Homo sapiens: one gene and its partner. The protein of the gene in region 1 interacts with the protein of each later gene in a biochemical or structural test. Each region holds a gene or a part of one and is shown on either strand. Other genes may lie near its edges.

Region 1 (15,386 bases):
CCTCAACCAAGTGATCAAGATTAACATCACCAGTGATAAGTCATCGTAATATCATGTAACCCCTGATATAATGTGATGAGAAGGGTACTTTACCTCTGGGGTATTCTTCTGCAAAACCCGTAAGCCCAGTCTAATCATGAGAAAACACTGGGAAAACCTAGATTCAGGGACATTCTAAAAATACCTGACCAATACTCTTCAAAACTGTCAAAGTAATGAAAAACAACAAAAAACTAAGAAACAGTCACAGATTAGAGAAGACAAGGAGACATGCTGATTAAATGCAAAGTAGGCCGGGCACAGTGTCTCACGCCTGTAATCCTGGCACTTTGGGAGGCCGAGGCAGGCAGATCACTTGAGGTCAGTAGTTCGAGACCAGCCTGGCCAACATGGTGAAACTCCGTCTCTACTAAAAAATACAAAAATTAGCCGGGTGTGGTGGCATGCACCTGTAGTCCCAGCTATTGGGTAGTCTGAGATGGGAGAATCACTTGAACCTGGGAGACAGAGGTTGCAGTGAGCTGAGATCGCACCACTGCACTCCAGCCTGGGTGCCAGAGTGAGACCCTGCCTCTAAATAAATAAATAAATAAACGCAAGGCAGTATCCTGGATTAGGTTCTGAAACACAATAAGGACATTACTGGAAAAAATGGTGAAATCTGAATGAAGTCTACCTATAGTTTAGTTTATGGCATTGCACCTATGTTCTCTGTTTTGAAAAAGCTACCATGGTTGTGTAAAATGCTAACATTAGAGGATGCTTTGTGTATACAATAACTGTCTGTCTAATCTTCCCAAGTTGTATGTAAATCTAAGGTTATTCCAAAATCAATTTACTTTTATAACCACTGTGTAGGCTACATATTCAGATCAGTGTCAACTGCTAGTCCATAAAGTCCATGAAAATGAGAAGCATATTAATGCTTTGATAGGAAAAATCAAAATAGAACTGGACTATGCATAGCATTAGTTTACGTGATTATGCCTAATTTTACATTTTGTGATAAAATGTTATTTGGCTTTTAAAACCCTCAGCAGGGGCCGGGCGTGGTGGCTCATGCCTGTAATCCCAGCACTTTGGGAGGCTGAGGCGGGTGGATCACGAGGTCAGGAGTTTGAGACCAGTCTGACCAACATGGTGAAATCCCGTCTCTACTAAAAATACAAAAATTAGCCGGGTGTGGTGGCACGTGCCTGTAATCCCAGCTACTCAGGAGGCTGAGGCAGACGAATCACTTGAACCTGAGAGGTGGAGGTTGCAGTGAGCCAAGATTCGCACCACTGCACTCCAGCCTGGGCAACAGAGCAAGACCGCGTCTCAAAAAAAAAAAAAAACCTCAGCAAGAAGAAATATAAAAACTATTGTACAAAATAAACACTTAAATGAAACTAGGCTCTGCTACAGTTTTCTTCTACTGGGGATAATAATAGTGTTTAGGGCAGCCATGGTTCTTAAGAAAGAAGTGATGAGAGATACCTGTTTTTTTAATAGATTGTCTTGGGTAATCTAAGTAGCACATCACTTGGAAAAGATACGTGAGACAGAAATAGAAAAAGTGAACTGTTCCCTAGGAAGGCAGCGCAGGATCATATATAACTTCATATCTAAATACTGGAAGGGCAACACAGTGTCATACATGAGTACATAGGGCCATATATAACTATTTATTCAAGATATGAGAACCACAGCTATAGTCAGGATTAAAAAATCACAATTCAGCAGTATACAGATTCTAAACTTTCTTTTCAACTTTAGAGATCATATTTTCTTTGGTTAACTTTTAATGAAGGAAATGAATACCATCACTAAAGAGTTTCTTAAACATATAGATTTCTGCTAATCAAAGAAAATCATAATGGAACCTAACTTATCAAACAGAATCACTTTATCTTCAGATTTTTCAGACCACTTTGGAACAAAGAAAACAAAATAACCAACTGATGGGATTCTGAGAAGATGGGAGTAGCAAGGGGCCCCATGGATTTTGTATCTTCCTTTATTCCCACATAAAAACAGACAAAGCAACTAGGTAACAAAAGATCCATGGACAGCCTTTACCAAAAAACTACTTAACAAAGTTTCCTACAAACCCCAAAATAAACGTGGATATAGACAAACCGCCAATAGTCAAAAGATCTGGGTGTCACTGGTGTTCAACTGGGAGGAAATTGAGGGAAGCCAGAGGAGTACAACACCAAGAGGACCTCAAAAGAGCCAGTGGGCATTCACTGGCAAATGCGCCAAGCCAATTACAGAACAGTAGTTGATACAAGGAGGGGTCTTCCCATTCCAATAACAGGTACCTGCCAGGGGCCTACGAGGGCTGAAAGAGCTGAGGCAGTCTGGACCTTTATTAATTCTCAGAACTGAAGAGTTGGGGCTCTCTTCCAGGATAGGGTCCCACACTGAGGAGAATCTGCTGAGAGGAGAATTAAAATTAAGTGACTAAGGAAAGAGGAGGTCCAGATAAAGAGCAGGTGAAAGTGGCAAGGAAAGAAAGGCAGGAAATCCGAGAAATCCAGCTGCCATATAGTTGAACAATGTCTGAAAATAGCACAAGAGGAAACCTTATCAAGTTAGAAAAGCTGTATAAAATCTCTTTCTAAAAGTTCAGCAACACTAAATTCATATTAAAAATGAACTACTGAGGCCAGGCGTGCTAGCTCATCCTGTAATCCTAGCACTTTGGGAGGCTGAGGTGGGAGGATCACTTGAGCCTAGGAGTTCAAGACTAGCCTGAGCAACATAGCAAGATCCCATCTCTACAAAATTTTTTTAAAAAGTCAGCCAGGCATGGTGGCACATGCATGTAGGTCCAGCTATTCAGGTGGCTGACGTGGGAAGACTGCTTGAGCCCAAGAGGTGGAGGCTGCAGTGAGCCATAATCACACCCCTACACTCCAGCCTGGGTGATAGAGTAAGACCCTGTCACAAAAAAGAAAAAAAGAGCAACTGAAAAGTCTCACAATTCAGATACATTACTAGAAGAAAAAAAAGGAGGAAAACGATCATGATAACATCCCGACAGAAAATGGAAGCACGTCAGAGAGCCATGCTCAAAAAAACAGTTCAAAACTATAACCACTTAAATCTACTGAAGGAACTAAAAGGCATTAAAAATGACATAAGATGTGAAAAAATAAACATCAGAAATAGAAAAACCCAGAAATAAAGTGAAAACAAGAAGTGACTGAAAAATTTAAAAAATCATTTTGGAAATGAAGATGAAACTAGAAGGAACAAGAAAATGAGTAAATATAACAAACCATGTCATTAAAAAAAAGCAAAGTTGAAATGAAGGATAATTTTAAAAATCAAAAAGAAATGACCTAAAAAACTAGATATGCAACTACCTTATGACCCTCAATTCCACTCCCCAGCATTTATCTTAGAGAAAAGAAAACTTAAGTTCACAAGAGAACCTGCTGTATATAAACATTCATAGCAGCTTTATTTCTATTAATAGACGGTTAAGCAAACTGATATATACAGGCAAATGGTTAAACAAACTGGTACATACATCCCATCACATACTTCTCAGAAATAAAAAGCAACGAACTACTGATGGACCCAACAACTTAGATGGATCTCCAGAAAATTACATTGAATGAAAAAAAGCCAGTCCCAAAAGGTTACATATTATACAATTCCATACTTCTATAACATTTTTGAAATGACAAAATTTTAGAAATGGAGGAAAGATGAGTGATTACCAGTGGTTAGAGAGGGGTTGGGGTGGGAAGTGACTGTGGTCATAACAAGGCAACACAAGGGATCCTTGTGGTGTTGCAGCTGTTCAATATCTTGACTGTGGCAGTGGATACAGGAACCTACACAGGTGATATAACACTGCAAAACTTAATGATACACATACATACATATACAAATGAATATACAAGTAAAACTGGGGAATATATCTATCTCAATATCCTAATTGTGATATTATGTATTAGTTTTGCAAAATGTTACCACTGGAAGAAACAACAAAGTGTATAAAAGAGCTCTGATTATTTCCTACAACTGCATGTGACTCTACAATTGTCTTCATATTTAAAAAACAAATGAAAAAGAAATGAACTAAATGCAACATGATATCCTGAATTGAATCCTGGAACAGAAAATGGACATTAATGGAGAAACTGGTGAAATGTGAACAACGTCTGGAGTTCAGTTAATATTAATGTACCAATGTTGGTTTCTTAATTTTGTACACTGCTAATGTCACATGTTAATCTTAGGGAATACTAAGCAAAGGATACACCAGACTTCTGCACTATCTTTGCAAATTTTCTGTAGTAAACTTTCTGTAGTGATCTGAAATAATTCCTAATAATTTGTTTATTTTTAAAAAATGTAAGAAATTAAGAGTTACATAGGATTTGCGAGAAACAGATAAATATTGAAGATAAGTAATGTGAATAACAGGATTCCCTGAAGAAGAAAAGCAAAGCAAAGAAACAGCACAAATATGAAAAACCATAATCCAAGAATATTTATTTGAAAATTTTTTTTAAAAAGATTTGAAACTACATCTTGAAAGAGCCCACAATGTACCTCAGAATGTCAACTCAGAATGACCAACAAAACACTCTAGTAAAATTACTGGACTTAAAAAAATCCTTTAGGCTTTAGGCTAAAAGATCATATGACCAGTAAGATAAAGAAAAAAAAGCACTAGATTTTTCAACAGCAATGTTTTTGCCAGAAAAAAAAAATGAGTTACAAATTTAAGATATTCAAGAAAAGAAAAAGTGAGCCAAGGATTCTATTTCTGGCAAACACAAACTTTAGATATAAAAAACACAGACAAAATGTTATGAACGAGCAAGAAAATTCATGAAATATGAATATTCCCTTAAGCCTTTCCTAAAGAATTTACTAGAGGCAAAACTTGAGGCAATCCAAATGACTAAAGAAACATCATTATAAGAACTAGTGGTGAGCATTAAATATACGGTTACTAACAGAATTAAGACTAAGTAAAGACTGGAGGAGAGACAGCATAGTATGTAATGATTATATGCTCTGACAATATATAGGACAACCATGAAAAAAAATCGGGAAGAATGTGAATAGCATATGCAAAAAATAAAAAATATTTTTAAACAGTTTTCAATAATTAAAAGTGGTTGTTGTCTACGGCCATACCATCCTGAACACACCCGATCTCGTCTAAAGTGGTTGTGGTGGTGATATTCGTATCATCACTCCTAGATTACTATATGTGAAATGTAGAATTAAAGCAAATGATAATTATGGATACACTAATTCTGTATTTTCAGTTATGAAAAGAAGATACAGATGTAATACAGAAGAAATTAAGAACCCCGAAATACAAACTAATCTTTGAATCTGAATAGGAACACTCAGTGTGAAATGACAATTCAGTATTTTATATTTGTTCACATATTTTCCTAGCTCTGTCCACCAAAAAGGCTTAAAAGTAATGACAAACTGAGAAGCAATGAATATCTCTAGTGCCTAGATTGGGGTCTTGAAATACTCTTTCCCATTTTTAAAAAAGTTTTTAAAAGAAGGTTTTCTTAGAGAAATGGCTAATTCCATTTCTAAAGTGGAAATGTACAAAATGATCCTGAAACATCTTGTCATACAAGATAGGAAGCTTTCAAAGGACACAGGTTCCCATTGGCTAAAAGGATAATTTGAATATGTATGAATAAGAATTACAGCACACTGGGCCATACTGTCCAAGGTAATTTATAGATTCAATGCCATCCCCATCAAGCTACCAATGACTTTCTTCACAAAATTGGAAAAAACTACTTTAAAGTTCATATGGAACCAAAAAAGAGCCTGCATAGCCAAGACAATCTTAAGCAAAAAGAACAAAGCTGGAGGCATCACGCTACCTGACTTCAAACTATACTACAAGGCGACAGTAAGCAAAACAGCATGGTACTGGTACCAAAACACATACATAGACCAATGGAACAGAACAGAGCCCTCAGAAATAACACCACACATCTACAACCATCTAATCTTTGACAAACCTGACAAAAACAAGAAATGGGGAAAGGATTCCCTATTTAATAAATGGTGCTGGGAAAACTGGCTAGCCATACGTAGAAAGGTGAAACTGGATCCCTTCCTTGCACCTTATACAAAAATTAATTCAAGATGGATTAAAGACTTAAATGTTAGACCTAAAACCATAAAAAACCCTAGAAGAAAACCTAGGCAATACCATTCAGGACATAGGCATGGGCAAAGACTTCATGACTAAAACACCAAAAGCAATGGCAAAAAAAGCCAAAATAGACAAATGGGATCTAATTAAACTAAAGAGCTTCTGCACAGCAAAAGAAACTACCATCAGAGTGAACAGGCAACCTACAGAATGGGATAAAATTTTTGCAAACTACCCATCTGACAAAGGGCTAACATCCAGAACCTACAAAGAACTTAAACAAATTTACAAGAAAAAAAATAACACCATCAAAAAGTGGGCAAAGGATATGAACAGACACTTCTCAAAAGAAGACATTTATGAAGCCAACAGACACATGGAAAAATGCTCACCATCACTGGTCATCAGAGAAATGCAAATCCAAACTACAATGAGATACCATCTCACACCAGTTAGAATGGCAATCATTAAAAAGTCAGGAAACAACAGGTGCTGGAGAGGTTGTGGAAAAATAGGAATGCTTTTACACTATTGGTGGTAGTGTAAATTAGTTCAACCATTGTGGAAGACAGTGTGGCAATTCCTCAAGGATCAGAACTAGAAATACCATTTGACCCAGTGATCCCATTACTGGGTATATACCCAAAGGATTATAAATCATGCTACTATAAAGACATATACACATGTATGTTTACTGCAGCACTATTCACAATAGCAAAGACTTGGAACCAATCCAAATGTCCATCAATGACAGACTGGATTAAGAAAATGTGGCACATATACACCATGGAATACTATGCAGCCATAAAAAAGGATGAGTTAATGTCCTTGGCAGGGACATGGATGAAGCTGGAAACCATCATTCTCGCCAAACTATCACAAGGACAGAAATCAAACACCGCATGTTCTCACTCATAGGTGGGAATTGAACAATGAGAACACTTGGACACAGGGCAGGGAACATAACACACTGGGACCTGTTGGAGGTTGGGGGCTGGGGAAGGGATAGCATTAGGAGAAATACCTAATGTAAATGACGAGTTGATGGGTGCAGGAAACCAACATGGCACATATATACCTATGTAACAAACCTGCACGTTGTGCACATGTACCCTAGAACTTAAAGTATAATAAAAAAAATACAGTTAATCAAAATTAATACCTCTAGGAATACAAATTATAAATACACATATTTCCATGGAAAAATTATAAAATAAGTCACCAATGCTAAAACACCAGAAATAGTTGCTATTAGAAAACTTTACCAAATTGTCAAAAATGAGATAATCTAAGTGCTACAGAAGTTGCTGTTTATATTGCTCCAAAACATAGAAAAAGAAAATGAAAAATTACAAACCATCTCCCTATGAATACTGATGACAACATTCTAATAAATTTTAATTAGAATATTAAATAAAATATTAGCAAACTAAATCTGACTAGATACTGAAAAATATTATCACCAAGTGGATTTATTCTAGTAATTCAAATATCATTAATTATTATGAAATCCATTATGGAAACCCATACCACTACCACATGAGTTTCTGATTGACCCTCCCTAGAAAGGAGCGTGCCCATCAGCATCCTACTGAATATCATTGAATATCATAGCAAATGAGGAACACATACACATGAACACAGGATAATAATGATAATATTAATGGCAACAATTGAGAAACATTTAATTTAAATGCAAAGTGACTGTACCACTTTATATACTCTTTAATCTTAACAAAATCTGTAAGATAAGTATTATCATCATCCCCATTTTATAGAGGGAAACTGACACTCAGAAATTAAGACATTTCAAGGTCCCTCAGTTAAATATATAATACAATAGCAGTCAGGCAGGGTGGCTCACGCCTGTAATCCCAGCACCTTAGAAGGCTGAGGTGAGAGGATGGCTTGAGCTCAAGAGTTCAAGACCAGCCTGAGCAACATAGTGAGACTGTCTCTACAAAAAAAAAAAAAAAAAAAAAAATTTAATTAGCTGGGCATACTGGCATATGCCTGCAGTCCCAGATATTCGGGAGGCTGAGGCAGGAGGATCACTTGAGCCCAGGAGTTTGAGAGTGCAGTCAGCTATGATCACACCACTGCACTCCAGCCTGGGCAACAGAACAAGACCTTGTCTCAAAAAAAAAAAAAAAAAAATTAAAAAGATTGATAGAATAAAACAAAAAGCTATTTAAAGGAAAAATAGATTACTTTTCTCACATAACCATTTAAAAATATGTACATTTTAAGAAAGGAAAGACTAATATTTAAATGAGATAAAAATCTGAGAGAGTGCTAGAGATGTACTGTTCAGGCAGGACAAAAGGAGTCTCTCATAGATTGATTCAACAGTCTCAGAGATCCACAGGAAAGCAGGTGACATAGTGGGAAGAGCACCAAACTGGAAGCCAAGGAACTGAGTTTTCCGTCCTGGCTCAATAAGAAGCTGCATCATAGTGAGTAAGTCACCTTAAAGCGTCAGTTTCCTCATCTTAAAATGAAGACTAACAAGGACCATTCTAATGCCCCCTACTCTACAGCTGTTGACATTAAAGGAATAATCTGGAAATGTAAATGGAAGGGCATCTCACCCACAGTTGTAGGCTTTTGGTAGCTCAAAGGTTGGGAACTACAGGGCAAGAAAGCCAGTAAGTAGCCATGCTTAAGCTAAATGAAGAAAGATGGGTACTCCCCTCTATTAGGCTCACTGAGGACAGAAATGGGCAAATGTATAGATAAAAATTAATAAAGGGGAAAATATTCATAGTCATAGTCATAAATCTATGTATGTATATGTATATATACATATGTATACGTGTATGTATATATACATATGTACACGTGTATGTATATATACATATGTACACGTGTATGTATATATACATATGTACACGTGTATGTATATATACATATGTACACGTGTATGTATATATACATATGTACACGTGTATGTATATATACATATGTACACGTGTATGTATATATACATATGTACACGTGTATGTATATATACATATGTACACGTGTATGTATATATACATATGTATACGTGTATGTATATATATACATATGTATACGTGTATGTATATGTATACATATATGTAAAGATTAATAAAGGGGAATAGTCATATTCATAGTCATAAATTCATGTAAGGAATATGTATGACTGTTGGACAATGTTCTTGCTGTTATTTTATAAGGCACCAAAATAATGAATAGCAACTAAGGAAAAGAATAAAACACAGAGCTTCATGCCAAGGCCAGGGATTCCATAAAACACTAAGGCAAATAAAACAATTCCTCAGTCTATGCTGGTCACAGCTTTCACAAACCCTGCCACAGGACCTTAACACTTATGTGTTGAAGTGGCACTCAGAATTAAGTAAGTTTTATTTTCTCCAAGTCTTCACTGTTATCAATGATTATTCTTATAACAACCACCTGGTGTTCAGCATTATGCTAGGAACTATAAAAATATAAAAAGAATTATAAAGCATGTCCCTAGCCACCGAAAACAGAACAATATGCACAGGAAAATAAGCAAAATAACTGAAGACAGTGAGTGCATGCCTGTGTATATATGCATATATGCCATCTACTTTGGAATTTAAATCACATTTTCCCACAGAAACACAGAGAAGGTGGTTAGGTTTCAGTTGAGGTGACTCCTCAAACTTATTTCATGCTTATTTAGTTAAGCCTCAGTAGCTGTCCTTAATTCCTTAAATCTCAAAGTGATTTTCAACCAAGTTGAGGGGCTAATGGGTAGTGCTGTATAGCTGGAAATAACACATTCGATATTATGACATAATTTTACAATTAGAAAATGAACAACTATTTTTCATGATGCAGAAGCCACTATTTTAATTAAATGAATTTGTAAGTGGTAGCTATAACATACATACACAGCGTGACCTGCCAAACACTGCTCCAATATCTTTACACATAACTTACTTTTCGTTATTTAACTCACTTTATTTATTTATTTATTTATTTATTTATTTAATGTTATTTATTTTGAGACGGAGTTTCACTATTGTCGCCCAGGATGGAGTGCAGTGGCGCGATCTCACTACAATCTCTGCCTCCTGGGTTCAAGCGATTCTCCTGCCTGAGCCTCCCCAGTAGCTGGGATTACTGGTACCCGCTGCCACGACTGGCTAATTTTTGGTATTTTTAGTAGAGACAGGGGTTTCACCATGTTGGCCAGGCTGGTCTCAAACTCCTGACTCCAAGTGATCCACTCGCCTTGGCCTCCCAAAGTGCTGGGATTACAGGCATGAGCCACTGCGCCCGGCCTAACTCACTTTATTCTTAAAACAACCGCAAGAGGGAGTACCGTCAATATTCCCAGTTTTAAGGTGAGTAAACTAAGGCAGAGGGATGTTAAGTAATTTCCCCAGTCACATAGTTCGACAAAGCTTCTTGGTGGGTGAAGATACACAGAAAATATTTTATTTTCTGAATAATCTCATTATCCAATATTCTTTACTCGGGTTGAAAACAGAATGAAGGGATAAAGGCACTATGTTAATAGTTAGGTAAGTACTTTTTTTTAAAGCAGTAAGTAAACTAAAATGATTCATATTAGTATGGCCCCAAATAATTCCATATTGTTTATACCACAGACAGGTTCACACAAGGGCCCTAAGATATATATACATGGATGTTATATATATATATATATATATATATATATATATATATATATATGGATGTTACATAACAAAACATGTTATGTATGGATGTTACATAACAAAACAAAAATCCATGTGTGTATATATATATGTATATATGTATATATGTATATATATGTGTATATATGTATATATGTATATATGTGTATATACGTATATATGTATATATATGTGTATATACGTATATATACGTATATGTCTATATACGTATATATATACATATATACGTATATATATGTATATATATACATATATACACATGGATGTTATATAACAAAACACTACAGCAGTGTTTTGATGGCTAATGACTGAAAATCTAAATGTCCATCAATGGGGACAGGCTAAATACTATTTTTATATTTTTACAAAGGACTGCTGTGTAGCCATGGAAAGGATGAGGTAGTTTTATACCCATGGATATTGAAAGTGCCTAATATACAGTACTAAATGGCAAAAGCATGTGTATTAGGATTCCACTTGTGGGAAAGACAGAAGGGGGTATATATTATCATGTGCTTTATTATGATCAGAAAGTTTCTTAAATATAACCAAGAAATTATTTACAGTGCTTACTTCTGGGAAGTGGGGAATGGAGATGGGTAGATCAGTAGATAGAAAAGAAAAAGACTTTTTTTACATTGTATCCTTCTGTATTAAATTTCCTTTTATCAAAAGCATATAGCTGATTTTAAAATAGCTTAATTAAAAATACAGCAATATAGAGCTTAGTCTCCTTTTACATAATGGTTTCTAACCACAGACTGGTATGTAATGATCAGTGGTATTCCTAATAGTAATTAACCTAGAGAAATTAATGAATGATTTATTTTATAAACAAGGATAAAGTCAACATCCCTTTAATTAATCCATTAATCAAAGGGAGAAAAAGAAAGGGGGCCTATAAAACTCAAGCAGAAGGTTGAAAAAAATCTTCTAAAGATCATGTTTAAGAAAGGCTGCATCCCAGAGTCTGGATGCCAGAAATGCCAACGACCTTCTTGAAAAACAAGGAAGTATCTTTACGTGATTGTCAAATTGGGTTGGGAGGTCCCAAGGTGTGGACAAGGCTTTTTAAAAACTTCATTCTTTTACGTTTATACTTTTGCATATTTCATATTATACACAACATATTTACAGTGGTAGTCATACACTATAAATAATTAAACACACAACATTTGGGGAGATGCATGCTCAAAAATGTTTTACTGATAGGGAGTGCAATTAAAAGGTTTGGAAGCTGCTGAGGTAGTAAAAAATATTGATGCAGTGAAAAGAAAAACATTAAATGGTCATTCTGTGGTCAAGGGATGAGAAGTAAAAGCTATGAAGCAGTTAATGTACAATGCCTGCAACTTTTGAGTACTCTTCAACTTTTTCCTGCATCTATTCCAAAACCAAATCCTGCCATTTTTCCAATAGGATATTTCCTGAGTTTGCCCCTTCATAACCATTCTGACCATCTAAATCTTATCAATTCACGCTTTTGGAAAGGCCTCTGGCCCTTATGTAAAGAGCCCTCCACTTGCTTGCATCTTGCACAGAACTGTAAAAAGGTCCTTTAAATGCTCAGACAGCTTCCAACTATCTCCAAAAGTGAAAGTACTTACCCATGATTGTAAATATCCCTGTCCCACTCTCAAACTGTCCGCTCCCCATAGACCAACTGGAGCTCTTTAAATAAGTCAGACAAATATATTCCTCATTCCTCAAAGGACTCACCCTCCCTTTCACATTCCGGTTGTGCAGATTAAACATACTCCACACCATCAAACCAAGTTATTTTTCCTCGAGAACTCTCTTAGAGGTTCCTTTTTCTCTAACAGCCTGCCCACCTCTGATTCCTGGGATTTTCGTGTTGACGGGATCGTTGGGATCTTTCCTCTCTTCTCATCTTTCCAGTAACCCATTAGCATTAGCAGGATTATTGGACAGGCCTCCGTTTGCATTAATATCTCCAATGATTCTGTGATCTCCGCCCTAAAGACCTTTGATTTCTTTTGGTCGCGCCTCCCCTTCGGGACACCAAGTTTGTTTAGGGCCTGAGCACAGGGGCCCAGCAGGTTCTTTCCGACGTCAGCGGCTGCGTACGGAGGCCGACTTAGGCAGGCCGCTCCAGGAACAAGGCCGTGCGGACAGGACTGACCTAGGCGCTTTTCCCCGTCGCTCCCAGAGGAGAAACGTACCGGGGAGGGGACAGACCGTGAGCAAGTGGTCCAAGTCTGCGCAGGGTGACCCCGAAGGCCCACCGGAGAGGCCGAGGCTTGTGGGCTACTAGAACTAGGCCTGGTAGGTGAAGGAGGCGGGTGAAGGGCCGGATCCAGGACTGAATCCGGGAGAGGCGGGGCGAGGAGGGGACTCCGGTGTAGCTGCTTGGGCAGCTCCCGCGGCCCCTCTGGCGGGGGTGACCGTTATTGGACTCGCAGAGGGAAGAGTTGGGTAGCGTCCCCTACTCACCTAGAAGCGCTGCCGCCTGAGGCTCCAGCTGCCCCCCTCCCAATTCAAGCCACGTCAGCTCGGGAAGCCCGTACGCGACACCTTCCACCGCCGCGCCCCGCCAGGGACTCAGCCACTAGCAGTTGGGACGGAAGATGGGATTAAGACACCGACCAATCAGGACTATCGGCAGGACGTTACCAGGGAGACCAGGCACACCTTGTTTGTTACCAACCTATCAACAATGACGGAAACCAATCAACGACAGAAGATGCTCCGCTTCCTCAAAGAAACAGCCAATGGACCCTAAAGAGTGAATGAGGGGAGTGATTAGACGCGAGTAGGTGCCCCGGAACAAGATCTGGGGAGGGACAGGAAGTGTCGAGTGGGCGGGCGTTCTGGGAAAGGTCAGATGTTCTCAGTGTGAAGTGGTTATGCTGGCTTCCTCCAATTCCTCCTCTTCGTCGGTTGTGACTGACCGAGACAGCGGCTTGGGCTTCGGCAGAGACTTGAGACTGCGGGCACCCGCTGCCATTAGGATTGTTGAATGAGCTGTGAGAAGGGAGTGGGGGATATGGGACTCTTAGATTGAAAAAATACTGGAGCCTCTTAGTTGTTCGTCTAGTTTCACCTTTTGATTTTGTTGATGAAAAATAATTAACCACAGAAGTAACTTGCCCAAAGTCAAACAGCGACTTAGTGATGGAACTCGGACTAGAACCCGGTGTCAGTATGAAAGAGGATCAGCAATGTCTGTAAGGACATGATTGTGAGAGAGAGAGTAGTGAATACTAGGAAGGTGCCTCTTACAAAGTGGAGCCTAAGCCAGGACCTAAGCAAAGATTGAGAGTTGAGGGCTCAGGCTCTGCAATGAGTGTCAGTGAGGAGCTCCAGCAAAAGACTGAAATCACTCATGCTTTCCTTAAACCCCTAAGGAAAGGGAAGGAAAGTAGCCAGTTTCCAATGAGCTGTCATTTCAGGCACTCTCTTGGCAATAAGAGTAATGTTAGTTTGAATTTATTGAATCTTGCTGTGCACTCAGCTGGCCCATTGTATGTATACTCATCTTAATGATTACATAACTTCACAATTCAAACATCAGCTAAGTAAGGCCTTTCCTGGCTGCCCATCTTACGGAACTGGAGGTCATTATTCTAAGTGAAATAAGTCTGGCACAGAAAGACAAATATCCCATGGTCTCACTCATGTGGGAGCTTAAAAAGTTGATCTCATGGAGTAGAGATAAGTACCAGAGGCTGGGAAGGTGGAGTTGGGGGAGGGAGGGAAGAGATTGGTTAATGGGTACAAACGTAGATAGAAGGAATAAGTTCAAGTGTTTGATAGCACAGTAGGGTGACTATAGTTAACAATATGTTATATATTTCAAAATAACTAGGAGATTAGAAATGTTCCAAACACAAAAATGATAAATGTTTGAGGTGATAGATATCCTAAACACCCTGATTTGATCATTACACATTGTATGCATATATCAAACTACCACACCCCATAAATATGTACAAATATGTATCAATACAAACATAAATAAAATTGCAATTTCCTGCATGCACTATATACTTCTTCTTTGCTTCTTTTTCCCCTAAGCATTTTGCCATCTAAAGTACTATATATTTCATTTATCTGGTATCTCTCTTCTCATTAGATTATAAGCTCCAGGAAGGTAGTAATTTTGATCTCAGCTTTATCTCCAGGTCCCAGAAAAGTATAGAGGAGGGCACTCAATATCTGTTAAATTAATAAAGTATATATGATTATCCTTATCTTAAATGTGAGACAATAAGACTTCAGAAGGTTAAATAATTTGCACAAGGTCACATGGTGAGGGGCAGAGACAGAATTTGAATGCTGCAGTACTTAATGAATACATCATATTCTTATATCCCTGATTGTATCCACCCAGCAAAGTCCTAAACCTGCATCAGTCCAACCATTGGTCTCTACTTCTACCTTTGGGGAGCAAAATGCTGCAGGAGACATCAGGACAATGTCATCAGTGACATCAATGTCCTGACCACTGCACATTCAGTTTCCAGCTGAACTCCATCTTCAGCACACTCCCAAATCCTTCTTGTCTTCAGCTTCCT
Region 2 (16,367 bases), on another chromosome or scaffold:
ATTCCCAGCTTAGTCAATCATACTTCAAATTTAAATTTAATTCCCAGCTCTGCTATTAAGTATATAACATGGACAAGTTATTTAATCTTTTGAAATCTGTTTTGTTATCAATAAAATAAATACTGCTCCTTAGGGTTCATATGAGTGTTAGAAATGTGTCCCAAAATCTTTGTATAGTGCCTGCACAGAGCAGACACTGACTAAACAGCAGCCATTATGATAATAATGGCAGGGACTTGAATTCCCACTAGGTACAAGTTGCTCTCTTCTGAATGAGCTCCATTTTGTTTTTAACCCTAAAGGATGATGCCTCAAACAAGCAGTATCCACGGCTTGTTTGAGGTGTACTCCTTGGTGCAGAGGAGAGCAGGACTATCTCTCTCTTTCCCTCATCCTAGTTACCATATTTCCACCAAAGCAGCCTAAGATCAAATCTGTTTTATTTCATGGCCATATCACACTGTTGCCTCACAGAGAATACACTTTGATTAAAATCCATCTTTTAGAAATATTAAAACTGGGCCAGGCGTGGTGGTTCACGCCTGTAATCCCAGTACTTTGAGAGGCCGGGTGGGCAGATCACCTGATGTTGGGAGTTTGGGACCAGCCTGACCCAACATGGAGAAACCCCATCTCTACTAAAAATACAAAAATTAGCCGGGTGTGGTGGTGCACACCTGTAATCCCAGCTACTTGGGAGGCTGAGGCAGGAGAATCGCTTGAACCCAGAAGGCAGAGGTTGCAGTGAGCTGAGATCGCACCACTGCACTCTAGCCTGGGCACCAAGAGTGAAACTCCGTCTCCAAAAAAAACCAAATATTAAAACTGAAAAACCAACTAGGTGCAGCAGCTCACGCCTGTAATCCCAGCACTTTGGGAGGCCGAGGTGGATGGATCACAAGGTCAGGAGTTCAAGACCAGCCTAGCCAACATAGTGAAACCCTGTCTCTACTAAAAATACAAAGATTAGCTGGGTGGGGTGGCACGTGCCTGTAGTCCCAGCTACTCGGGAGGCTGAGGCAAGAGAATAGTCTGAACCTAGGAGGCGGAGGTTGCAGTAAGCCAAGACTGGGCCATTCCACTCCAGCCTGGGCAACAGAGCAAGACTCTGTCTCCCAAAAAAAAAAAAAAAAAAGGATAATACAATGCAGTATTCCTAAATCAATGAGTAGGAAACACTCTGGGAATTGCCTAGCATATACTAACTGCTTAGTAAAAGTTTTAAGACTTCCCCTCCATTAACTCAAAACATCCATAATCAATTCTCAGAAGTACCTCCTTTTCAACAACATAAGCAGCCACAAAAATACCAATAGCCAGGCATTCTGCTAAGAGTTTATATATATAATTTCTTATAATTCCTAAAACAACCCTTTGAGTACAGGAAAGCACAAAAAGTTAACAAAATTAAGTGGCAGAGCAAGGAAAACACACCCTAAAGAGTGTTGACTCCAGAGCTTACCTTTCTAAATACTGATTCACAGTAGCTCTTGTATTAGTTAACTGATAAAACATCTGCTCCTGGGCATTGGCTACACTGTCCACTTTCTGAAAACTCATCAAGCTACACACTTAGTATTTGTGTACTTTAGTGCACTGCATGTGTGATAAAGGGAAGCCTCGGGAAAATGTTAAAATCACTTACATTAAAAACATATACACACTGGGCACAGTGGCTCACGCCTGTAATTCTAGCACTTTGGGAGGCCAAGGCAGGTGGATTACCTGAGGTCAGGAGCTCGAGACCAGCCTGACTAACATGGTGAAACCCTGTCTGTACTAAAAATACAAAAATTAGCTGGGCGTAGTGGCATGTGCCTGTAATCCCAGCTACTCGGGAGGCTGAGGCAGGAGAATTGCTTGAACCCAGGAGGCAGAGGCTGCAGTGAGCTGAGATCGCGCCATTGCACTCCAGCCTCGGTGACAGAATGAGACTCCATCTCAAAAAAAAAAAAAAAAACAATGACAACAACAACACATACACATTCCTGAATCCAGTCAAAGGAAAGTTTTGGTTCAGCTCAAATTTAACATGAACTTGGTGGCTATAATTGTTTTTCTGTCTTACATCTGTCTCTCTTAGGTCTATATATCCTCCTACAGTATTACATACTTATGTCTAAAGGTAAAGATAATAAAAGGGAAAAAGAACTCTAATAGATGTTCCATAGTAACAAACTTGAAATTATCTGAGGATAGACCACTGAAGTCCAGGAGGCACACTAATTATATATGTTTCCAATGAATAAATTACAGCTGTACAGTATTTTAAAACATTAAGGAAGCCATTTATAAATGCTCTTGTAGTTGCCTATGTTTAAAGAAGACAAGAGGAAATGGAACCATTTCAGTTGTCCATTTGTTTGCTATCATTAATATAATTCTCTCCCAACATATAATACTCTACTATCAGTAACACAATTGGGTATAATCAATAGCAATGCTAGTAGAACTATTCCATAAAGAAAATGAGTCCAAGACTTACCTTCCAAATAACTGAGGGGCCTGAGGCAGGATCCTTAACTCAGAAATGGGATTAATACCCTTACAGAAGGCCTCTTGGAGGATTAAACAAAATAATGTACATACAGTTTTTGGCATAGTACCTGAGATTTAGTAAACATCTACTCAATAACTATTGACAATTATTACTCTGAAATCTTAAATTAATGTAAACAATCTACCAGCTTAATGTAATACAGTAATAAAGTATTAGAGAAGGAAAAGTCCACCCCAAAGAACTCTAAAAACCAAAATACAATTCCCCAGGTCAACTCCATCCAAGAAGTATAAAGGTCATAATAAAATGAACCCACTGGATTCCTGTGGGTCCTTAACCCATGGAGATAAGAAAACCTAGCTTAACATTGTTAAAATAGAACTGGGCAACTCTGGCCGGGCGTGGTAGCTCATGCCTGTAATCCCAGCACTTTGAGAGGCCAAGGCGGGTGAATCGCTTGAGCTCAGGAGCTAAAGACCAGCTGGGCAACAAAGCAAGACCTCTGTCTCTACAAAAAATACAAAAATTAGCCGGGCATGGTGGCTCGTGCCTGTGGTCCCAGTCACACAGGAGGATGAGGTGGGAGGATGGCTTGAGCCTGGGAGGCATAGGGGGCAGTGAGCCAAGATCGCACTACTGCCCTCTAGCCTGCATAACAAAACCAGACTGTCTAAAAAAAAAAAAAGAATTGAGCAACTTTGCTCCTCCCTTTAAAAACCTCCAGTGGTTCCTCATCTTCTAATTTACTGACAAAAAGGCCGAACTATTAATACTTACATGGCCAGGCGCGGTGGTTCACGCCTGTAATCCCAGCGCTTTGGAAGGCCGAGGCGGGGAGATCATTTGGGGTCAGTCCAAGACCAGACTGGCCAACATGGTGAAACCCCATCTCTATTAATAATACAAAAATTAGCTGGGTGTGGTGGCACAAGCCTGTAAGCTCAGCTACTCACGAGGCTGAGGCAGGAGAATCACATGAACCCAGGAGGCAGAGGTTGCAGGGAGTGGAGATCATGCCACTGCATTCCAGCCTGGGTGACATAGCAAGACTCCGTCTCAGAAAAAAAAAATGACAATGGCATGCAAGTCCTTCCAAGAATTGAACTCAGTTACCTTCCCAGCTCTCTCCATCAAACTGCTTTCTATTTTCCATTTTGCAAACAGACATGCTTTGACTTCTCATGGCTTTCATGGCTCTTGGCCTTCCCCCCTCTGGAATGGCATCTGCTCCCTCAGTCCTCCACACTGTACTGCAGTTGTCACTGGGTCCTTAACTCCTCTTTTGGACTCTAAGCAAAAGATAACGTACTATTCATTTATAGTTGTAACCTAATATAAAACTATCCATACTGAAAAGTCAATAATGTCTGAAATTTAGATGGTAAAATGCTAACTTACATTTACCCACATCTTCATCTATTTTACTTTTACTGTCATAAAAAATTAAGAATAGTTGACGTAATTGATTCAGTCACTGGCCTATTACCACCCTGACAAGGATGGAATAAGAAATAGGGCTTGTCATTTCCAACCCAAGCTATTTGCAATGGAAAAATATATCCATGCTTTCAAGATTCGTATTTATTCCACAGTGGAAGAGAAAATGTAATGTTCTTTCCTTTATTTATTTATTTTTTTGAGATGGAGTCTTGCTCTGTTGCCCAGGCTGGAGGGCAGGGACGAAATCTTGGCTCACTGCAAGCTCCGCCTTGAGGGTTCAAGTGATTCTCCTGCCTCAGCCTCCCAAGTAGCTGGGACTATAGGCGCCTGCCACCACGCCCAGCTAATTTTTTTATTTTTTTATTTTTAGTACAGATGAGGTTTCACCGTGTTAGCCAGGGTGGTCTCGATCTCCTGACCTTGTGATCCACCCGCCTCGGCCTCCCAAAGTGCTGGGATTACAGGCAAAAGCTACCACACCCGGCCGAAAATGTAATGTTATTTCTAATTCTCGTGAGATACTGGTATAAAACCATAGAATAGCGATTAAAAGTCCCAGCAAGACTGACAAAACACCATGTGTTCCACCAGAAAAATCCACACATTAAAACAAAGGTGCCGGGCACGGTGGCTCACGCCTATAATCCCAACACTTTGGGAGGCCAAGGTGGGCAGATCACCTGAGGTCGGCAGTTCGAGACCAGCATGGAGAAACCCCGTCTCTACTAGAAATACAAAAGTACCTGGGCGTGGTGGCACATGCCTGTAATCTCAGCTACTCGGGAGGCAGAGGCAGGAGAATCACTTGAACCCTCGAGGCAGAGGTTGCAGTGAGCTGAGATCGCGCCATTGCACTCTAGCCTGAGCAACAAGAATCAAACTCTGCCTAAAAAAAAAAAAAAAAAAAAAAACCAGGCTGGGCACAGTGGCTCACACCTGTAATCCCAGCACTTTGGGAGGCTGACGCAGGAGGATCACGAGGTCAGGAAATCGAGACCATCCTGGCTAACACGGTGAAACCTCGTCTCTACGAAAAATACAAAAAATTAGCCGGGCGTGGTGGTGGGCACCTGTAGTCCCAGCTACTCGGGAGGCTGAGGCAGGAGAATGGAGTGAATCCGGGAGGTGGAGCTTGCAGTGAGCCCCGAGATGGCACCACTGCACTCCAGCCTGGGCGACAGAGTGAGACTCTATCTCAAAAACAAAAAACAAAACAAAGGCAGCATTACTTGGCTCACTCCACATTCCATAATTCTTCTGACTGCTTTTACATCCTTCCCTTTTGTCAGTTAGTGTCTCATATACTAACAGTCTCCAATGACACATGCAGAAAGGTAGCTTTTAATTGCTACACAGCTATTTCTCCTTTTTAGTACCTGGATATTGCTTTGAGAACTTCATTTAGGAAGTGAGTGAACCACACCTATCAGTGTAGCTTTATTCTCTAAGGTGACTAACACCTAGGCCCCAAGTTATAAGTTTCCCCAGGATTCCTACCACTCAAGACACATGTTAAAATAATCTGTTAGGTTAAGACCACTGAATCTTAAATCTGAGACATCATATTTTATAGAATCCAGCTCCCTTTATACATATGAAACTGATTCTGGAAAAGTTAATTGTCTAGTTTACAAGGTAACTAGAATCCAGAGCTTCCTGACTCTCCAAACAATGTTAAGTATACTACACGTTACAGTGTTTTAATCTTTTTCTTTGTTTTGAGACAGAATTTCACTTTGTCGCCCAGGATGGAGTGCAGTGGCATGATCTCGGCTCACTGCAACCTCTGCCTCCCATATTGAAGCGATTCTTTTTTTTTTTTTAGACGGAGTTTTGCTCGTCGCCCAGGCTGGAGTACAATGGTGCCATCTTGGCTCACTGCAACCTCCGCCTCCCGGGTTCAAGTGATTCTCCTGCCTCAGCCTCCCTCAGTCCTGCAACAGAGCAGGACTCCAGCTCAAAAAAAAAAAAAAAAAGGAATTAGTTCATTTCTACTCTTACTCTCTGCTACAATATACTTTACTGAAAAATAAGTTCCAAGAATAAAAATTTAAGATGGAATGTAGCTATATGAATTGTACAGAAACCACCTGATTTTTATCAAGTGGTAATATATCATCACTACAGCAAACTCTAAATTCAAGCCGGTGATCTAAAAGTCAAATGATCCAAAACCCATTAGCCATTACCAATTCCCCAAGCTAGTTAGTACACAGAGGGCTCAACTCATTGTGCAATGACCACGAATATGTCATTGAATGTGAAATGATCAAATGTTCTGGAAAATTTATAAAACTTTCACTAGTTTGCACAATTAAAGTTATTTTGAGAGAAAACAACTTCCGTGTGTATCATTACATTGAACTACTCAACTTTGGCTAGTAAAATATGTACTCCAAAAGGTACTCCCTCTGGGGAAAGTGTCATAAATATGCTGCTCTGGAATGTACGTGGAACCTAGCAACCACTTTTAAAGTTGCATTTGCTGATGTCCCTCCCTGTCCATTCGCCCTACAAGACTAAGTATCTTTAAGAATCAAACTAACGGGCTTTCATCAGTTTTTCCCACTGACAAAAATCATGTGATTGGTCTCTCCACCATTCGACTAAGTGAATCACCCAATTAAAAAAAAAAAAAACCGCACACTACAATCTTGCTCTAAGACAAGAGACATTTAACAATTAATTATGCGAAAAGCACAGAAGGTACTGTTAGGCCTTACTCTGAGAATTCACTCTTGCACATTGCTTACAATGTAAAATTTTAACCACCTAGAAGTTACTAGAACATAGTGGACATCTCTCCTCAAGAGTTTGACAAGCCGGAGAGGATGATGAGCTTAACACTTTACTTCCTCCTCTCTGCCACATCAATCTGCCGGGGGATCAAGTCCTGTTCCAGTTTATGGTTCCCAAGAATGGCTGGAAAAGCTATGTATGGAACCTCTTGACAGATTTCTTCCACTAAGGGTAAAAATCGGCGGGTTCTGATGTGACAAGCCATGGGAAATAGGAAAAGAAAAGCGTCAGTTAAAAAAATAATAATAATAAAAGGCAATCCCAGAATGGGATCCTTTGGAAGAAAGTGGGCTCATTCTTCCACCAGGGCTCCTGGAAATCCCAGAAGCTAAATCAGGTAAAATGTCCCGGTAACCTCTGGGAGGCGGGACATGACTGCTAAACCAAGGTTGCAGGCCCGTCAGGGGTGTGACCTAGTGGCCAAGCGGGTAGTGACAAACTTCGGGTACCCCCAAGGAGGGAACCCCGCTTGAGTCACCACAGCCCAGTATGAGTGGGTGAGGGCAAGTCTGGTCCAGTCACCCTGGGGACCACAGCCCACGCCGGGCTCCCGGGGCCGGGCAGAAGCGGCGGGGGTGGGGCTGGCCCGGCTCACCTTTGAAGAAGCGCAGTGCCAGGCCGTACAACTCCTCCAGGCCGAAACCCCAGCGCTGCTCCAGCCGCCGCGCCTCCTCCGCCGCGCCCCCAGCCGCCGCCTCCCCGGGCTCGGGCTGCTCCCCTGAGGCGCCCGGGCCGCGACCGGATCCAGGTGGCGAGGGCGGTGGCAGCGGTGGCGGCAGCAGCGGGGCGCCCTCCGCCCCAGGCCGCTCCTCCGGGTCCGGGCTGAGCGTGAGGCCGTCGACGGACACCTCGAGTCGCTCTGCGTTCAGCACCGCCGCCATCTCCGGCTGCTGCACCTCCTCAGCGGGGACAGACGGCAGCCACGTATCGACTTCCTGCTGACCTCTGACCTCCGCTTACCGACACCGGAACTTCCGCTGCTGAGGAGGCTGGAGGGCTCCGGGAGAGGGGCTGAGGCCTGGCGCCCCACCCCCTCCGGAATCGTCAGTTGCCCTGGCTCAGCGACCACCCTTCAGGCTCCCCAACTCCCGTTGGTCCCGAACTCCCCTCCCCCGCACCCCATCCTTTCGGATCCCAGTTGCTCCAGGTGGGCGGGTGCTACCACCCCCACCGCTCGGTTCGGTGCTGCGGCTGTCAGTGCCCAGCAGGGGCGGGGTCAGTGGAGCCCCGCGCGGGGGTCGGAGTAGGGAGGATTGACGAGGTCGGCCAGCACCCAACCCTCCAGGTCAGAGGCCCTTCACATTTGCAGGGGCCTGCGTGGTTGGCAGAGCTCTTTTGCCCACCACCATCTCGTTTGGCCTTCACAGCAACTCTAAGGAAATGCAGGGCAAATTCCCAATTTTTTTAAAAGGGGAAACTGAGACTGCAGAGAAATTCAGTGACTTTGAGGTTGCAGACGGGGCTGATCCTGGTTTTGCAGGAAGCGCAGCTCATACAATTTGTGGGGACCCTCATTAGGAAAGAGTACAAAAAGTTACGCGCAGAAGGGTAGGAAAGTGAATGTATATTTAGAAAGAGAAAGAAAAAACAAATGATATTTTAAAAGTTAATAAAACCCACAAACATCACACACATAACCGTAATATTTTCATTGACTGCCTGATATTCTTCTACAGGGCGTCTGAGAGCCCAGAAACCTATTTTTTTCTAAAAGATTGAAGTCGCCCCCGACATTATGTATATTCACCTGTGTTTCCAGACTTTGGGAGCACCATTTATGATCATTTTTCCCACCTTTGTTTTGGCTGCGTACTTCTGATTGCCTTTTCCTATAACAATTATTTTGTAACTTTTTTTTTTTTTTTTTTTTTTTGTTTTTTGCAGACAGTCCTGCTGTGCCACCCAGGCTGGAGTGTAGTGGTGCAATTCGGTTCACTGCAACCTCTGCCTCCCGGGTTCAAGCAACTCTCCTGCCTCAGCCTCCCAAGTAGTTGGGATTACAGGTGCTCACCACCACGCCCGGCTAATTTTTGTAAACTTAGTAGAGTCAGAGTTTCCCCATGTTGGCCAGGCTGGTCTCAAACTCCTGACCTCATGTGATCTGCCCGCCTCAGCCTCCCCAAAGTGCTGGGATTACAGGTGAGAGCCACCGCGCCCGGCGTATTTTGTAATTCTCTATAAAGAAAAGAGAAAGATCAGTCTTTTCTCCAGCATGGCTGATTAAATTTGTTTCTTAATAATTGTTTATAAATTTATTTCAGCATCACAACTCATTACTGATATTGTTAACGTACTTTTTTAGGGTTATTGTTCAGTTTGGGAAACCTCTCTCAAGTTTCATGGATGTGCTATGAGATTTTTATGGCCGTTTGGCTGCTTCAGTGACAATTTTGTGTGTGGTTTTTACTGAAGCCCTAGAGAGTTTTTTTCTTTTTTTTGAGACGGAGTCTCTCTCTGTCGCCCACGCTGGAGTGCAGTGGCGCGATCTTGGCTCACTGCAAGCTCCGCCTCCAGGGTTCACGCCATTCTCCTGCCTCAGCCTCCTGAGTAGCTGGGACTATAGGTGCCCACCACCATGCCCGGCTAATTTTTTTGTATTTTTAGTAGAGACGAGGTTTCACCGTGTTAGCCAGGATGGTCTCAATCTCCTGACCTTGTGATATGCCCGCCTCGGCCTCCCAAAGTGCTGGGATTACAGGCGTGAGCCACCGCGCCTGGCCGAGGGTTTTTTTCAGGACAAGATTTGTATGCTGCATTCAGACAGGATCTCATTCATTACGGTGGATAAGACATATAACTTCACATACAGACAGACTCACTGTAGTACAACTATAAGTTTTTGTCCCATAAACATAGGGTTTCTAATCTATTCCCTTTTGCATGCTTCACATAAAAACATGAAGTATGGTGCAGTTATAATTGCAGATATGACTTAGATTCTCAGTGAGTGAGAACCTTCATTTTGATTAGGCATTGAGAGAATTGATCCCTCTCCTTATAATCTTCCACTTCTGATGGTTGGAAGCATATTTTTAAGTCTTTTAATTTTAATTACTCAAAGAAGCTTCATTTTTTATTTAGCTTTCTGACCCTGTGCTTGTGCCTTCAACACTCTCACAATGATTTTCTTTTCCTCGATAAGGAAAACATGCTTGATCCTGTCACAAACACATATAGCACACATGGAACCACCATAGGCCCTGCTGACATGGTTTTTTGTGTTTTGGACAATCTCATAAGACTTCGGGTCTTATAGCACGAACCCCTTGAAGTCTGCGTGGGTACACACCACAGTAGATTTTGGTGCTTTCCCAGCCTTCTTGGTATAAAGGTAAGCAATTATATTACCAGGGGTTCAGGACAGCCTAGTTTTATTAGAAGCTGTATTGTAGGAAAGCCTACAACAGTATGTCAAACGCTGGACCATTCTATGTGCCTATAGACAACATCCCCAGAAGAGGAAAAAGAATGGAAGAATTTTACTAGCTCTTTCTTTTCTTTCAAACCTTGTTGCTCCTCCACTACCCAAGTACTTCCTGTGTCAGGCAACATAGGGTTCCTTCGCCCTTTGGCCTTGCACTTTTGTGACATGGTGCTGGCTGAATTGACATAATGGGCAGTAGGTATATTCCAGAAAGCCATTCCTACACCCATGGTGAGCAATAATTTAAAAACATGCAGAAGTGACTGCAAACCACTTAAATGCATGCCACTGACCCCAAATTAAATGTATCCCTATTCATTGTCCCCTTAGCCAAATCCCCCACAAAGCCTATAGCCATTTCAATACCTCCTAACCAGAGGAGGATGACGAAGGGAAGTTAGAAACGAAGACAGAGGTCTTAAATATCTTACTCTCAAAACTGTTACAGAAGTGTATACTGCTAAGGCCGCTCTAAGGGCCTTGGGAGGGGCCTGTGTAAGCAAGGGGCCCTGAAGCTTGAGCTTCATTAACTTTATGGTAAACCCACTTCTAGTTGTAGAGGACTAAAAACTCTAATTCTACTGCTCTAAGGTCTGTGTTCTTCCCACTTAGCTTGGATCTTTATATTTAGCTTCATTAGCTTAAAAATATGCATATTATGTGCCTAACCTTCAAAATGTTATATATACATATATATTCCCCTGTGTTTTGCTCAGTGTTCTACCTTTAACATTCAATAACTGTTGGGATGATAATGAGTAGGGTAAATATAACCCTTCTTCATGAAATGCTAGATTCTGTTTTCCAAGTTTTCACGATAAGCATTTCTTTTGTAATCAGAAAAAAAGTTATTTTTTTAAAAAGTATACAATAATTATTAAAACCTATAGAATATACCTAGGAAGGTAGGTAAAATATGGTAATTAATTAATTACATGGACTTTTTATACAAAAATTAGCTGGGCGTGGTGGTAGGCACTTGTAATCCCAGCTGCTCAGGAGGCTGAGGCAGGAGAATTGCTTGAACCTGAGAGGTGGATGTTGCAGTGAGCCAAGATCACACCACTGCGCTCCAGCCTAGGTGATGGAGAGAGACTGTCTCAAAAAAAGACATACATTAAAAAAAATTATATGGACTTTTTTATTGTTTTGTAATTTAACATATTGAATATGGTTGGAAAACCCAAACATCCTCTAGACCAAGCATCTGAACCTCTTGCTAATCGAAACATCAAGGGCCATTGTGTAGGTGGTTGCCCTTAATGACTAAAAACATTAGGGGTTGGCACAGTGCGTCATGCCTGTAATCCCAGCACTTTGGGAGGCTGAGGCAGGAGGATTGTTCGAGCCCAGGAGTTTGAGAACAGCCTGGGCAGCATAGGAAGACCCTGTCTCTACAAAAAATAAAAAATTAGCTGGGCATGGTGGCATGTGCCTAGGGTCCAGCTACTTGGGAGGCTGAGGTGGAAGGATCACTTGAGCCTGGGAGGTCAAGGCTCCAGTAAACCATGATGGCGTCACTGCATTCCAGCCTGGGCGACAGAAGGAGACCCTGTTTCTAAAAAATAAAATTAAAAAATTAGAGAATATAACTTCGCTTTAACAGTTCACTGTGGGAGATGAGTTCCAGACACGCTCACCTGAATGTCTTATTAAACTGCAGATTCTGACTCAGTAGGTATAGAGGGAGGCCTGAGAGTATACATTTCTCATAAGCTTTCTGGTGATGCCGATGCTGCTGTCTACAGACCACACTTTGAATAGCAAGTCTAGGAAACGTGTTTTTCCCATGCTTTATTGAGTATAATTGTTGTATAATAAACTGCAAATATTAAAGTTTACAATATGATGAGTTTTGGCACAGGCATATACCTGTATAACCATTACCATAAAATAACAAACATCCATTACTGTTTTGTAATTCCTTCTTCCCCCAAGATTTTTCAATAGATCTTTGTTATAATGCACTTGTCACAGTAGAATCTAACTTACATAAACAGTTCAGCGCAACTATCTGTTTTTCTTTTCCTTTTTTTTTGAGACGGAGTCTCGTTCTGTCGCCCAGGCTGGAGTGCAGTGGCGCGATCTTGGCTCACTGCAAGCTCCGCCTCCCGGGTTCACGCCATTCTCCTGCCTCAGTCTCCTGAGTAGCTGGGACTACAGGCTCCTGCCACCACACCTGGCTAATTTTTTTGTATTTTTAGTAGAGACGGGGTTTCACCGTGTTAGCCAGGATGGTCTCAATCTCCTGACCTCGTGATGCGCCTGCCTTGGCCTCCCCAAGTGCTGGGATTACAGGCGTGAGCCACCGTGCCCGGCCAACTACCTGTTTTTCTATATCCCTGTCTTTTATATGTGAGGAGGCACACAGATTGATCAAAAAGGTGTATTTTTGAAAACTTTCAAATATCTTCTCCATGTCTGTTCTTTTATAAAAGAGGATACTTTTGGGTGTTCTGCCTATGGTGTACCCATTCTTTTATTCCTTTACTTTCTTAATAAACTTGCTTTCATTTAAAAAAAAAAAAAAGGATACTTTTTTTTTTTTTTTTGAGATGGAATCTCACTCTGTTGCCCAGGCCGGAGTGCAGTGGCGCGATCTCGGCTCACTGCAACCTCCGCCTCCTGGGTTCAAGCAATTCTCCTGACTCAGCCTCCTGAGTAGCTGGGATTACAAGAATGCACCACCAGCCAGGCGCGGTAGCTCACGCCTGTAATCCCAGCACTTTGGGAGGCCGAGGCGGGCAGATCGCGAGGTCAGGAGATCGAGACCATCCTGGCTAACACAGTGAAACCTCGTCTCTACTAAAAATACAAAAAATTAGCTGTGCGTGGTGGCGGGCGCCTGTAGTCCCAGCTACTCGGGAGGCTGAGGCAGGAGAATGGCTCGATCCCAGGAGGCGGAACTTGCAGTGAGCCGAGATCGCGCCACTGCACTCCAGCCTGGGTGACAGAGCAAGACTCCATCTCAAAAAAAAAAAAAAAAAAAAAAAGAAGAATGCACCACCATGCCCAGCTAATTTTTGTATTTTTAGTAGAGATGGGGTTTCACCATGTTGCCCAGGCTGGTCTCGAACCTCTGATCTCAGGTGATCTGCCTGCCTTGGCCTCCCAAAGTGCTGGGATTCCAGGCATGAGCCACCGCGCCCAGCCAAAAAAGGATACTTTCCAATCCGCAAACTTTGCTGTGTGAATTTCTTAAGCTCCATTCCATTCAATAATTTTCCACATGAAGTGTTTACCATTTCTGAAATGCTTTCTGAAATTTAGACTTTCCATTTGTTCTCTCCACATATTTTCATCTTTTCTGTAAATATCGTGGATCACTAGACAGGGACTGAGTTCAACTTTTTGTTTCCTGCTTTTTCTGGTGAACTAATAATCAGTACTCAGTAAAGTTTTGCAGTTAGTCTTATTTAGTAATGCAGTACCCTTTAGTAGTGAAAATTATTTTGTATTCCTTGACTGCAAGCACTTAGAGATCAAGGGGCATTTCCCTGGACTTCCACAGTCCCTAGCACAGGATAGGAAACATGGTAGGTGTTCAGAATGTCTTACTGAGTGAATGAATGAAGGTGTAATTACACTATTATGTACGATATCAGTTCAGCTCAACATACATGTAAGGAGTGCCTTGTATACCAGGTATTTTATTTTATTTTATTTATTATTATTTTTTTTTTTGAGATGGAGTCTCGCTCTGTTGTCCAGGCTGGAGTGCAGTGGGATGATCTAGGCTCATCACAACCTCTGCCTCCCGGGTTCAAGCAATTCTCCTGCCTCAGCCTCCTGAGTAGCTGGGACTATAGGTGCGCACCACCATGCTCAGCTAATTTTTGTATTTTTAGTAAAGACAGTGTTTCACTATCTTGGCCAGGCTGGTCTCGAACTTGACCTCGTGATCCGCCCACCTTGGCCTCCCAAAGCGCTGGGATTACAGGCATGAGCCACCATGCCTGGCCGTATACCAGGTATTTTAGGATACAAAGGTGAGTGCTGTGGTATCTACACCCAAGGTGTTTATGGTCCAGTAGGTGAGACTGTGGCAAAAGCACCAAATTAGGGCCAGGCTTCCAGTGCTGGAATTTTACCAACTCGTGACGTTGAGTCAGTTACTTTACTTCTGTTTCCTCCTTTATAAAATGAGAATAATAGTACTATCCCCCTCTTAGGCTGTTGAGAGGACTGAATCTATGAATACTGTACATGTAAAGCACATAGAAAAGGACCTGTTTGAGACTAGGCACAGTGGCTCACACCTGTAAACCCAGCACTTTGGGAGGCCAAGGTGGGAGGATCACTTGAGGCCAGGAGTTCAAGACCAGCCTGGACAACACAGCGAGACCCTGTCTTTACAAAAAATTTCAAACATTGGCCAGGTGTGGTGGTGCACACCTGTAGTCCTAGCTATTCAGGAGGCTGAGGTAAGTGGATATTTGAGGTTATAGTGAACTATGATCGTGCCACTATACTCCAGCCTGGGCAACATAGCAAAAAGGACTAGCCTGACACGTACTGGGCCTTTAGTAAATTTTGTCCACTATTATATACAATGCTCCCTTACAATGTAAAAGAGAGTTTGCACACTCGGGGCTCCCAAGATAAAGCCTACCCACTAGTATCTTTTATTTGGCTTGGAAGAATTAGCCCCTATAATGCTTTAAATTTGAATTGGTTGCTAGCATTTTAAAATCTGGAATTTTAATGTAAAAATCCAGATTTATGACTTACCTTAAAAAACTAAGAAATCTGGCAACTGTGGGCCTGACACTGGTGCTTGACAACAATGAGGTGCAGTTGTGTAGAGAATGCCTTCTTCAGGAGAGACATGTGCTCTCAAGTTCTCAACAGTCCCCCAGCCCATGGTGACAGACACTGTCCATGCTATCTATCATGGACCTATATTTGGTTTTGTAGAAAATGATAAAAATCAGTTTATCAGCTGGGCGCAGTGGCTCACACCTATAATCCCAGCACTTTGGGAGGCCAAGGTGGGTGGATCACCTGAGATCAGGAGTTCGAGACCAGCCTGGCCAACATGGCAAAATCCTGTCTCTACTAAAAATACAAAAATTAGCCAGGCGTGGTGGTGTGTGCCTGTAGTCCCAGCTACTCAGGATGCTGAGGCAGGAGAATCACTTGAACATGGGAGGTGGAGATTGGAGTGAGCCGAGATCGCGCCACCGCATTCCAACCTGGGCGACAAGAGCAAAGCTCTGTCTCAAAAAAAAAAAAAAAAATCGGTTTATCATCTTACACAGCTCTCTATCAATTTATATTGTTACTTGCCTGACCACTGTCTTAGTCTGCTTGAATTGCTATAACAAAATACCATTTACTGGGTAGCTTAAAAACAACAGAAATTTATTGCTCACCATTCGAGAGGCTGAGAAGTCCCAGATCAAGGCTCCAGCAGATTCAGTGTCTGGTGAAGTCCTGCTTCCTAGTTTATAGATGGCCATCCTCTGGCTGAGTCCTCACATGGTAGAAGGGACAAGGGAGCTCTCTGGAGTCTCTTTTATTTTATTTTTGAGACAGGGTCTCACTCTGTCACCCAGGCTGGAGTGCAGTGGCGCAATCTCACTGCAACCTCCGCCTCCCAGGCTCAGGTGATCCTCCCACCTCAACCTCCCAATTAGCTGAGACTACAGACACACTGCATCACACCTGGCTAATTTTTGTATTTTTTTTGTAGAGATGGGGTTTCTCAAGCTCGTCTTGAACTCCTGGACTCAAGTAATCCACCTGCCTCAGCCTCCCAAAGTGTTGGGATTACAGGTGTGAGCCACCATACCTGGCCTGGGGTCTCTTTTATAAGGGCTCTAATCCCATTCATGAGGGCTCTCCCCTCATGACCTCATAACCTCCCAAGGGCCCCACCTCCTATACCAACACATAGGGGATTAGGTTTCAACATACACGTTTTAGGAAGAGGTAAACATTCTGTCTACAGCACCACTGTAGGCATTCATAACTCCCTAAGATAGAAGAAAGAGGAATACACAATGTCTGGAAGGTTTGTGGATGGCTTCCACACAGGATAGAATTATCTGATTGGTCCCTGTGCTCCTTTACATCTGAAGGATGTGGAAACAATCAGATAGGCAGAAGGAATACCATCTGCTAATGCCCTGAGGGCTAAGAGAGCCTGGCATGTTTAGTTATCCCTGGCTGGAGCATTTACTGCAAGGGTGGAGAGATAGG

What was found.
Region 2: the proteins of GOLGB1 (region 1) and ACBD3 interact in far-western blotting, tested with the Homo sapiens proteins (one study listed by BioGRID).

What each region holds. Positions count from the first base shown.
Region 1 is NC_000003.12:121,736,330-121,751,715, forward strand, and holds the start of GOLGB1 (golgin subfamily B member 1), read right to left. Parts: upstream 13,413-15,386; 5' UTR 13,303-13,412; exon of another isoform or gene 12,681-13,302; intron 1-12,680. UniProt on the Homo sapiens protein: May participate in forming intercisternal cross-bridges of the Golgi complex.
Region 2 is NC_000001.11:226,179,056-226,195,422, forward strand, and holds the start of ACBD3 (Golgi resident protein GCP60), read right to left. Parts: upstream 7,687-16,367; 5' UTR 7,621-7,686; coding exon 7,335-7,620; intron 1-7,334. UniProt on the Homo sapiens protein: Involved in the maintenance of Golgi structure by interacting with giantin, affecting protein transport between the endoplasmic reticulum and Golgi. Involved in hormone-induced steroid biosynthesis in testicular Leydig cells.